3 linked regions of the Homo sapiens genome follow. The protein of the gene in region 1 interacts with the protein of each later gene in a biochemical or structural test. Each region holds a gene or a part of one and is shown in the gene's direction. Other genes may lie near its edges. The genes, in order: DERL1, SELENOS and RHO.

What was found.
Region 2: the proteins of DERL1 (region 1) and SELENOS form a complex in vitro, tested with the Homo sapiens proteins (one study listed by BioGRID).
Region 3: the proteins of DERL1 (region 1) and RHO form a complex in vitro, tested with the Homo sapiens proteins (one study listed by BioGRID).

The regions. Positions count from the first base shown.
Region 1 is NC_000008.11:123,014,561-123,018,309, reverse strand, and holds part of DERL1 (derlin-1), read left to right. Parts: intron 1-2,724; coding exon 2,725-2,863; 3' UTR 2,864-3,749. UniProt on the Homo sapiens protein: Functional component of endoplasmic reticulum-associated degradation (ERAD) for misfolded lumenal proteins. Forms homotetramers which encircle a large channel traversing the endoplasmic reticulum (ER) membrane.
Region 2 is NC_000015.10:101,270,760-101,274,508, reverse strand, and holds the end of SELENOS (selenoprotein S), read left to right. Parts: intron 1-13; coding exon 14-89; intron 90-1,652; coding exon 1,653-1,732; coding exon of another isoform or gene 1,733-1,738; 3' UTR 1,739-1,745; exon of another isoform or gene 1,746-2,318; intron 2,319-2,863; 3' UTR 2,864-3,700; downstream 3,701-3,749. UniProt on the Homo sapiens protein: Involved in the degradation process of misfolded endoplasmic reticulum (ER) luminal proteins. Participates in the transfer of misfolded proteins from the ER to the cytosol, where they are destroyed by the proteasome in a ubiquitin-dependent manner.
Region 3 is NC_000003.12:129,526,934-129,530,682, forward strand, and holds the start of RHO (rhodopsin), read left to right. Parts: upstream 1-1,705; 5' UTR 1,706-1,800; coding exon 1,801-2,161; intron 2,162-3,749. UniProt on the Homo sapiens protein: Photoreceptor required for image-forming vision at low light intensity. Required for photoreceptor cell viability after birth.

The DNA.
Region 1 (3,749 bases):
AGGCAAAAGGCTGTCGAAGAACGGGCCAGTTAAATCACCATCTGGGTGTCACAGCCTGCCTGACAATCATGCCTAATCTCATATCAGGGATATGCAGTAATAGCTTGCATTTGAAAGCTTTAAAAAAACAAACAAACCAAACCCTTCCACATCTTGCTAATTTTAATGTTTTGCAGTTCTGTCATTCCTCTAAGGGATCAGTGAGGGCAGTAAAACTTGAGCAGGCCTCCTCTTTCTCCCCTTCCTTTTATAGGGTAGGGGTATGTTTTTCAAAGACTTTTCAAATTGTGAACTGTAATATACAGAGATATACCATATTGGTGGTTGTGGTGTGTGTGTTTTTCTTTAAGAGAATAAAAAGAAACTTGTTTCTCTTCTGAGCCTTGAATTGCCTTCAGGCTAAAAAAACAAATGACCAATCTGGTTTCTAATTATCAAAGGACATAATAACAGCAGGTTTGGCTTTCTGATCTAGGTTTATCAAGTAGGATGGCAGATGCATCAATTAAAAAAAGCTTGGTGCTTTTGGGGGGCAGCCAACAGTTACTTTACTTTAAATGGCCATATTCTAACTTAACGGCTTGTAGCTACTTCTCAGTTGTGGGCAACACAGGATACAAGATTCTAGTGGCAAAATCAGCGAGCCCTGGAGCCTGCCTTCCACTTGAACTTTCTCTGTTGGGGGAAGTCCTTCTGCTAAATTTTGCATAAAGATCAGATGACAAAATACAGCTCCTTGCAAAAGCAGTAACTGCTTTGAAATTACCATAAATTTTTGTTGATTATGTATAATTGGGTATCTTTTTATACTAATTATTTGCATTTAATTTCACTATCTACTTAAGCAGTGGAGATGGCTTCCATATTGTCTTAGAGTGAGTAGCAAAGCAAGACAGCCCTAGCATTTTCTCCAGCAAGTGTTCTATTTTATTATGTACTTTGGAGGAATATTATTGTACCAGAAGGCATGGATGTTGAGAAACCAGCACTTGGAAAATACATTTTGATTTAATGGTAAAGCTGTATTTGTTTAAAATGGAGGAGGTGAGTATAGGAAGGTATAACTGCTTTTCTAAATGGAATGCTGATACATTTGTATCACCATTTTCCATTCCATTTAGAGTAGTTATATCTTCTCTGTACACACTAAATTTTGTGTTTAAAAGGGGTTTTTGGCCAGGCGTGGTTGCTCACGTCGGTAATCCCAGCATTTTGGGAGGCCGACGGGTGGATCACGAGGTCAGGAGATCGAGACCATCCTGGCTAACATGGTGAAACCCTGGCTCCACTAAAAATACAAAAATTAGCTGGACATGGTAGCGGGCGCCTGTTGTCCCAGCTACTCGGGAGGCTGAGGCAGGAGAATTGCTTGAACCCGGGAGGTGGAGGTTGCAGTGAGCTGAGATCATGCTACTGCACTCCAGCCTGGTGACAGAGTGAGACTCCGTCTCAAAAAAAAACAAAAAAACAAAAACCCGAGTTGTTGTCTGTTTTGGGAAGAGGCATGAAGGTATCGAGTATGATGTAAACAGACTCCAGTCACTGACTGCTGTCCCTTCCCAGGCAGGATGCATGTAGTATAACAAGTAGTGCAGGGCGCAGGCTCTGGAACCAGGCTGACTAGGTTGGAATCCTGTCACTTTCGAAGCGCTTCACTCAGTGTTGGCTCAATTTTCTTGTTTATAAAACAGGAGTAATAGTAATGCCTACCTCATGGGGTTATTGTGAAGATCAGATGAATTTATAAGCAGGCAGCACCTAGTGTAAGGCAATAATCACTGAGTAAATTCACATAGTAACTGCTCTAGTATAAGGTCAAGTATAAAGCCTGTCCTCTTCAGGGTTTCTGCTGTGGACAAGTCACCTGTCATGACTTACTCTTGCTGCCAAGAAGGGTTTAAGCGGAGGTATCAGATCATGCTCTCTGCCTTCAAGCAAAATTTTAAACATTAGGATCTGCTAAGTGGAATAGGTTTAAACACATTCTCAGTTTACTAATAAAAGAGTCAAAGATGGGAAATAGTTGGAAAATACTATTGAGAGTGTAGGCTTGGGTTTAAGTTCTCTTAGCTGTTCTGTGAACTCTTAGTTTATTAATTTTAAGGTGGGAAATCATCTAACCGTCTGGGGCCCCAGCTCTCCCACCATCTGTGAGAAGGGAAGAATGTACCTGGAAGGCAGATTCTGAATAAATTTTAAAACATACCCATACTTCCAACATAGAAAGCCTTCTTCCCCTGTCTCCTTTGATGGGCTCAGCTGAGAGCCTTTTAGAAATGCTGTGCAAGGCTCAAACATGCAGGCTGTGGATTTGGCCTTTGAAAGTGAATGTATTTTGTATCCTTTGATCCAGTTTGAGCCATATTTAGATATACCAAGATGCTATCAGTCATTCTTTGGTTGCTGGGCTTGTGGGTGTAATATTTTTGTTTCCATACTGTTCTGCATGGATTACTTTTATAAGCAGAGAAAAAAACGTTCAGAGTGTGAATTTAGCTGAAATCTGAATACATTTAAGAAACATGAAAAACGAATGCCGTCTGTGGTCAGGTCATGGGGCTGAGTACAGAAAAGACAAAGTTAAATAAGACGTCCCTCGCTGCCTTCAACATGACAAGTGCCATGGGAACAGCAGGAGAGGGAGGTGTTCTCGGAGGTCAGATAACTATGTGGAAGTGACTTTGTTCTCTTCTCTCCGTTTGTGTCCCCGTCTTTCTGCACCAGGTACCGCTGGCTGCCCAGTAGGAGAGGAGGAGTATCAGGATTTGGTGTGCCCCCTGCTAGCATGAGGCGAGCTGCTGATCAGAATGGCGGAGGCGGGAGACACAACTGGGGCCAGGGCTTTCGACTTGGAGACCAGTGAAGGGGCGGCCTCGGGCAGCCGCTCCTCTCAAGCCACATTTCCTCCCAGTGCTGGGTGCACTTAACAACTGCGTTCTGGCTAACACTGTTGGACCTGACCCACACTGAATGTAGTCTTTCAGTACGAGACAAAGTTTCTTAAATCCCGAAGAAAAATATAAGTGTTCCACAAGTTTCACGATTCTCATTCAAGTCCTTACTGCTGTGAAGAACAAATACCAACTGTGCAAATTGCAAAACTGACTACATTTTTTGGTGTCTTCTCTTCTCCCCTTTCCGTCTGAATAATGGGTTTTAGCGGGTCCTAGTCTGCTGGCATTGAGCTGGGGCTGGGTCACCAAACCCTTCCCAAAAGGACCCTTATCTCTTTCTTGCACACATGCCTCTCTCCCACTTTTCCCAACCCCCACATTTGCAACTAGAAGAGGTTGCCCATAAAATTGCTCTGCCCTTGACAGGTTCTGTTATTTATTGACTTTTGCCAAGGCTTGGTCACAACAATCATATTCACGTAATTTTCCCCCTTTGGTGGCAGAACTGTAGCAATAGGGGGAGAAGACAAGCAGCGGATGAAGCGTTTTCTCAGCTTTTGGAATTGCTTCGACCTGACATCCGTTGTAACCGTTTGCCACTTCTTCAGATATTTTTATAAAAAAGTACCACTGAGTCAGTGAGGGCCACAGATTGGTATTAATGAGATACGAGGGTTGTTGCTGGGTGTTTGTTTCCTGAGCTAAGTGATCAAGACTGTAGTGGAGTTGCAGCTAACATGGGTTAGGTTTAAACCATGGGGGATGCAACCCCTTTGCGTTTCATATGTAGGCCTACTGGCTTTGTGTAGCTGGAGTAGTTGGGTTGCTTTGTGTTAGGAGGATCCAGATCATGTT
Region 2 (3,749 bases), on another chromosome or scaffold:
TGTGTTCAAACAGGAGGAAGACAGTCCTGGGCCTTCCACTTCATCTGTCCTGAAACGGAAATCGGACAGAAAGCCTTTGCGGGGAGGAGGTAAGCACCACTGATGTCAAATGTTAACAGATTTTCAACACTTACAGGATATAGTTACCTTTTAGGAACAAGATTGTTTGTTTCTTTGTCCATAAATTAAGACTAATTCCTTAGGATTGTGAAGATTCAATAAAGGAAACAGATGCAAATCACCTCCTAGGTCCTCACTAAGTACTTAGAAGGATTGTACTTATAGTATTCTAACTTGATCCTTCTGCAGCCCCGTAGAGGGAGAGCTAAGTAGGGTGAGGAATTGTCTGCCAATCTTCAGATGAGTGTCAAGGAGCTGGAACACAGTGGTTTTGGTCTTTCTGGCTGGGACCACCTTGTTTCTTGCAAATAACAAGGAGTAGCAGACAGATGCTCATCCAAAGCTGCTTCCTGTGTGCAGCACTGCCCCGGGGACTCTGGATGATGCCACAGCAGTCTGTCTTCATCCCATCCCTGAGAATTTCAAATCTGGGAAGATGGGACTCACAAACGAAAATAAGCAATCCTTGGTGATTCTGGCTAAGAGTTGCAAGTTACTGCTGAGGAAGGAAAGAACAAACACACTAGAACACTGTAGGAACCAAGGCGGAAGATTTTGTATCCTCCATAGGAGGAGAGGGGCACCGCAGAGGCCCTGATGGTGTCTTTGAGGACTGAGGAAAGACTGGGGCATGGGCTCCAAGGCAGCAGGGCCACAGACTTGGCTGACCTTAAACGCTGAGCTGTAATCCCCTTTGTGTCAGAAGACTAAACCTGGCTTGCTGTAGAGAAGGTGATGCATCTGGAAAGAAAATGCTATTTTTAAATGGTCCTGCCGGAAGCTTATTTTTAGACACATAGAGGTGATATTTAGGAGAGGAATGGAAATCGTAGAAGATGGAATGCAGGGTGTGCTTGCCTGCACGGCCTCTTTCAGCATCCCCAGCATTTCTGAGCTGGGACTTTTGACTAGCCTGGCTTTACAAATAAGGAAACTGAGGCACAGTGTTTAATTGCCCAAAGATTCCACTATAAGTAAGGAGTAAAAGTAACATTTAAGTTCTGGGTGGCCCTAGAACCTTAGCACTCAACCAGGTTACCAGTTGTGCACTGACTTTGGGAAGCTCATGAGGGAGTGGGGTGGTTGGGGGTAGGGAAGGATACAGAAGACCCCGTTCTGACTGGTAGAAGTGACAAGTTTGACTCTTGATTTTTTTTAATCTGTTTTCTGTAGCGTGAACAGCCCTTATTTGAATGTATGAGTTTTAGTAAGCACTGTGATAGGAGGATTCATATACTTAAATCAGGCCCTCTTGAGAGAGTTTTTTGGTGACCCTTTTGCATGTGTTTCGGAGGTTGGGACAAAGAAGCTGAATGACTTTTTTCCCCACCAGACAATCAGTTCAAATGGCAATCACAATATAAAGGTTTTTTTTTTTTTCACATAGCTAAAAGGTTTTTTTAAATGTCCCTTAGGATCTGTATCTTTGCAGTGCTTTGCGTGTCACTCTCATAATTTTATTGTGGATATACAATGTTCCCAGATTTTCAGATTTTTATCAATACTGTTGTGCTGCTTTTCTGTCCTCCCAGGTTATAACCCGTTGTCTGGTGAAGGAGGCGGAGCTTGCTCCTGGAGACCTGGACGCAGAGGCCCGTCATCTGGCGGATGAGGCTAAGAATCTTGTTAGTGTCACTTTTGACATTAGCAAGATGAACCCTTAACCCTCGATTCAATTGCCTTACGCACGCTTTTCACAGTGACTAGCCAAGGGGAGGTGGGGTTGATTTCTGTTCCTAACTACACCTGCATATGTCAGGGCTCCAGTCAGCAAAAGGTATAGATGTTGCCTCTAGGCATGAGGTCATTGGTCACATTCTACTTGGAGACAGTGATTGCATTCATTGATTTCATGGTTAATTGCTAGTTGGTAGGTAAAGGCCTCTAGATGATTAGCAATCTTGATAAAAGAGGCCTAGTAATGTTCTTTTGAGGTTAGAAATCCTTGCTGCTAGGACAGTCTCTGTGACAGGTTGCGTTGAATGATGTCTTCCTTATCAATGGTGAGCCCACCAGTGAGGATTACTGATGTGGACAGTTGATGGGGTTTGTTTCTGTATATTTATTTTTATGTACAGAACTTTGTAAAAACGAAACTATTTAAAAAACAAGAATAACATTTTTAGCATCTTTATTCAAGGAGATTTATGGACTTCAATTTGTCTATCAAACATTAAATAGCTTTTTATTACAACCTCTAACTATTACTTATTTCTCTATTTATTATTACTCACCCAAAATAAGTCTGGCAAGTGGCAGACAGCTGCCGTGATTTTGAAAGTTGACAGACTCCTTGGGGTTCATCCACAAAATTGGGTGCTTGGAGTCGAGTTGCCGAATTACTGGGATAAAGAAACATCGTGCCTCAAGGTTCCTCATAGGCTGACCAGGTTTCTACGTGACCTCTCAGTTATTCCCTTACGCCATGACTCATCTTTTACGCTCTTGTCCAGAGGCACTATCAGCAGTTTTGGATAAAGAGCCAAACAGTAAATATTTTAGACTTTACAGGCCACATATGATCTCTGTCACATAGTCTTAGGTTTTTATATTTTTAAAGGATTGTTTTTAAAAAAGATTCTCTGCTCATGGGCTGGATTTGGGCTGAATGCTGTAGTGTGTGGACCCCGTCTAGATCATCAGAAGGAAAAACATTAACCTTCAGAATAGGGGGTAATTCGCTGCAAAAGTACTATAGAATGGTCTCATACATAAATTAGTCAACATTTGTTATCTCCTGCAGGTAGAATATTCCGTGGTTGCTTCTTGACCAAGGGAAATACAGTCTGGCTGTGAGAGACTTAAAATCTCTTGAGGAGCGCTCTGGAGAATGGCTGAAGGAGAGGAAACAGGAGCCTTGAGCAGTGTAATTACAAACAAATAGGTTGGCATAGTCTTAAGTCTTTGAGTCTAGAGAGATTTGAGTTTTGTTTTGCCTGTGGAGGCAATTGGGGGTTTCAGGTCAAAGAGAGGGTCAGTGGAAACAAGGGTGGGCCTTGTGAGGTGTGGGGAAGCCCTGGGACCCTCACTCCCCTTCCAGTGTGTAACTGGATTGGCTCCCACCAGCCCAGAAGATTTACGACGTGGGAAATGGTATACTTGGATTAAAATATTTCATCCAGATTTGTTTACATCTAGAGAGAACCCCTTGTAGGTTATAAGGAAACTTTTTAACATTCTTCCTTGAATATATTTTCTGTAGCTGAAAATGTTTGTGAAGTGGCTGTCAACTACACATCGCATGAGTAGAGGGGCTCTGGGTCGGGGTTTCATATGCAGCAGAGCAGCTCCCTTGCTGCCGTCCATCAAGAGCCCTCAACACAAGAGTTTGTTATAAATAGAAATAAACGACAAAAAGTAGAGGGGTATGTTTAAGTACACTATTAGATGTGACTGACTACCTTGAAACCTGATTTTTTTCCATGGGGAGAAACAGTGCTTGAATTCTGCATGCCCCCCTTGCATCTAGCACCTTTTGGTAGGGGTGGAAGGAGGGTGTCAGGGAGAATGATTAGGAGATAATGGAGGGGAGGGGAAACTTGCGTTGTGTAATAGCATTTGAAGAGCACTTACCACGTGGCAGGAGTGTCCATTTCTGTTTGATCCCCCTAGAATCCTATGAAACGGGT
Region 3 (3,749 bases), on another chromosome or scaffold:
GGGCACTCTTCTGAGCAGACAGATCTGGGAATCCTGGGTGGGAAGAGAGACAGTGAGAGAGAGATTAAGGGATATTTCCCAGGCATCAGGGCTTTGCACTCTCAGGGGTCCTTCCGCCTGGATGTCCTTCCCCTGAAGCTTCCTCCTGTTGTTCCGTTCTCAGCTCAAGCTCCAGCTTCTCAGAGAAGCCTCCTGTGTTGGGAGTGGCTGCGACTGAACTGTCCCTACTGTTATTCGCTCTTCTATTTGTTTGTGGTCCCTGTGCCCCCTCACCCCACAAAAACACTGGCTTCTTGTGAGCAGGAGCTTGCTCTTTCGTGTACCCTGTGTGTCCCCAAGGACCAAGCACCTTGTCTGGGCCACAGTAGGTGCTCAATACACATGTTGGCTGGACAGTGGTCACTGAGCGGCCGCACGTCGGGCACTCTCAGCACTTGCACAGGCCGCCCCAGACACCCCACTTCATTCCTGGGAGGTGTCATCATGTTGCTTGGACGACGGGGAGAGGGGGACCTGCCAGTGTTGGCCTCCATTTTCCCCCAGTCATCTGCCCCCAAGGCTCTGACTACTTTCTTTCTCACGGTACATCCTGCTATTCTGGAATCGGCCCTCGTGGGGCCACCTGGTACATGGCATTTGAGGCCCTCGTGGCTGATTAGGCCTCCCCCAACAGTGCCCTGTCTGCTGCCTCCAGGGCCAGCCTCCCCTTCAGACTGGAGTCCCCTGAAGGGTTCTGCCCCTCCCCTGCTCTGGTAGCCCCCTCCATCCTCCCTCCCTCCACTCCATCTTTGGGGGCATTTGAGTCACCTTTCTACACCAGTGATCTGCCCAAGCCACTGCTCACTTTCCTCTGGATAAAGCCAGGTTCCCCGGCCTAGCGTTCAAGACCCATTACAACTGCCCCCAGCCCAGATCTTCCCCACCTAGCCACCTGGCAAACTGCTCCTTCTCTCAAAGGCCCAAACATGGCCTCCCAGACTGCAACCCCCAGGCAGTCAGGCCCTGTCTCCACAACCTCACAGCCACCCTGGACGGAATCTGCTTCTTCCCACATTTGAGTCCTCCTCAGCCCCTGAGCTCCTCTGGGCAGGGCTGTTTCTTTCCATCTTTGTATTCCCAGGGGCCTGCAAATAAATGTTTAATGAACGAACAAGAGAGTGAATTCCAATTCCATGCAACAAGGATTGGGCTCCTGGGCCCTAGGCTATGTGTCTGGCACCAGAAACGGAAGCTGCAGGTTGCAGCCCCTGCCCTCATGGAGCTCCTCCTGTCAGAGGAGTGTGGGGACTGGATGACTCCAGAGGTAACTTGTGGGGGAACGAACAGGTAAGGGGCTGTGTGACGAGATGAGAGACTGGGAGAATAAACCAGAAAGTCTCTAGCTGTCCAGAGGACATAGCACAGAGGCCCATGGTCCCTATTTCAAACCCAGGCCACCAGACTGAGCTGGGACCTTGGGACAGACAAGTCATGCAGAAGTTAGGGGACCTTCTCCTCCCTTTTCCTGGATCCTGAGTACCTCTCCTCCCTGACCTCAGGCTTCCTCCTAGTGTCACCTTGGCCCCTCTTAGAAGCCAATTAGGCCCTCAGTTTCTGCAGCGGGGATTAATATGATTATGAACACCCCCAATCTCCCAGATGCTGATTCAGCCAGGAGCTTAGGAGGGGGAGGTCACTTTATAAGGGTCTGGGGGGGTCAGAACCCAGAGTCATCCAGCTGGAGCCCTGAGTGGCTGAGCTCAGGCCTTCGCAGCATTCTTGGGTGGGAGCAGCCACGGGTCAGCCACAAGGGCCACAGCCATGAATGGCACAGAAGGCCCTAACTTCTACGTGCCCTTCTCCAATGCGACGGGTGTGGTACGCAGCCCCTTCGAGTACCCACAGTACTACCTGGCTGAGCCATGGCAGTTCTCCATGCTGGCCGCCTACATGTTTCTGCTGATCGTGCTGGGCTTCCCCATCAACTTCCTCACGCTCTACGTCACCGTCCAGCACAAGAAGCTGCGCACGCCTCTCAACTACATCCTGCTCAACCTAGCCGTGGCTGACCTCTTCATGGTCCTAGGTGGCTTCACCAGCACCCTCTACACCTCTCTGCATGGATACTTCGTCTTCGGGCCCACAGGATGCAATTTGGAGGGCTTCTTTGCCACCCTGGGCGGTATGAGCCGGGTGTGGGTGGGGTGTGCAGGAGCCCGGGAGCATGGAGGGGTCTGGGAGAGTCCCGGGCTTGGCGGTGGTGGCTGAGAGGCCTTCTCCCTTCTCCTGTCCTGTCAATGTTATCCAAAGCCCTCATATATTCAGTCAACAAACACCATTCATGGTGATAGCCGGGCTGCTGTTTGTGCAGGGCTGGCACTGAACACTGCCTTGATCTTATTTGGAGCAATATGCGCTTGTCTAATTTCACAGCAAGAAAACTGAGCTGAGGCTCAAAGAAGTCAAGCGCCCTGCTGGGGCGTCACACAGGGACGGGTGCAGAGTTGAGTTGGAAGCCCGCATCTATCTCGGGCCATGTTTGCAGCACCAAGCCTCTGTTTCCCTTGGAGCAGCTGTGCTGAGTCAGACCCAGGCTGGGCACTGAGGGAGAGCTGGGCAAGCCAGACCCCTCCTCTCTGGGGGCCCAAGCTCAGGGTGGGAAGTGGATTTTCCATTCTCCAGTCATTGGGTCTTCCCTGTGCTGGGCAATGGGCTCGGTCCCCTCTGGCATCCTCTGCCTCCCCTCTCAGCCCCTGTCCTCAGGTGCCCCTCCAGCCTCCCTGCCGCGTTCCAAGTCTCCTGGTGTTGAGAACCGCAAGCAGCCGCTCTGAAGCAGTTCCTTTTTGCTTTAGAATAATGTCTTGCATTTAACAGGAAAACAGATGGGGTGCTGCAGGGATAACAGATCCCACTTAACAGAGAGGAAAACTGAGGCAGGGAGAGGGGAAGAGACTCATTTAGGGATGTGGCCAGGCAGCAACAAGAGCCTAGGTCTCCTGGCTGTGATCCAGGAATATCTCTGCTGAGATGCAGGAGGAGACGCTAGAAGCAGCCATTGCAAAGCTGGGTGACGGGGAGAGCTTACCGCCAGCCACAAGCGTCTCTCTGCCAGCCTTGCCCTGTCTCCCCCATGTCCAGGCTGCTGCCTCGGTCCCATTCTCAGGGAATCTCTGGCCATTGTTGGGTGTTTGTTGCATTCAATAATCACAGATCACTCAGTTCTGGCCAGAAGGTGGGTGTGCCACTTACGGGTGGTTGTTCTCTGCAGGGTCAGTCCCAGTTTACAAATATTGTCCCTTTCACTGTTAGGAATGTCCCAGTTTGGTTGATTAACTATATGGCCACTCTCCCTATGGAACTTCATGGGGTGGTGAGCAGGACAGATGTCTGAATTCCATCATTTCCTTCTTCTTCCTCTGGGCAAAACATTGCACATTGCTTCATGGCTCCTAGGAGAGGCCCCCACATGTCCGGGTTATTTCATTTCCCGAGAAGGGAGAGGGAGGAAGGACTGCCAATTCTGGGTTTCCACCACCTCTGCATTCCTTCCCAACAAGGAACTCTGCCCCACATTAGGATGCATTCTTCTGCTAAACACACACACACACACACACACACACAACACACACACACACACACACACACACACACACACAAAACTCCCTACCGGGTTCCCAGTTCAATCCTGACCCCCTGATCTGATTCGTGTCCCTTATGGGCCCAGAGCGCTAAGCAAATAACTTCCCCCATTCCCTGGAATTTCTTTGCCC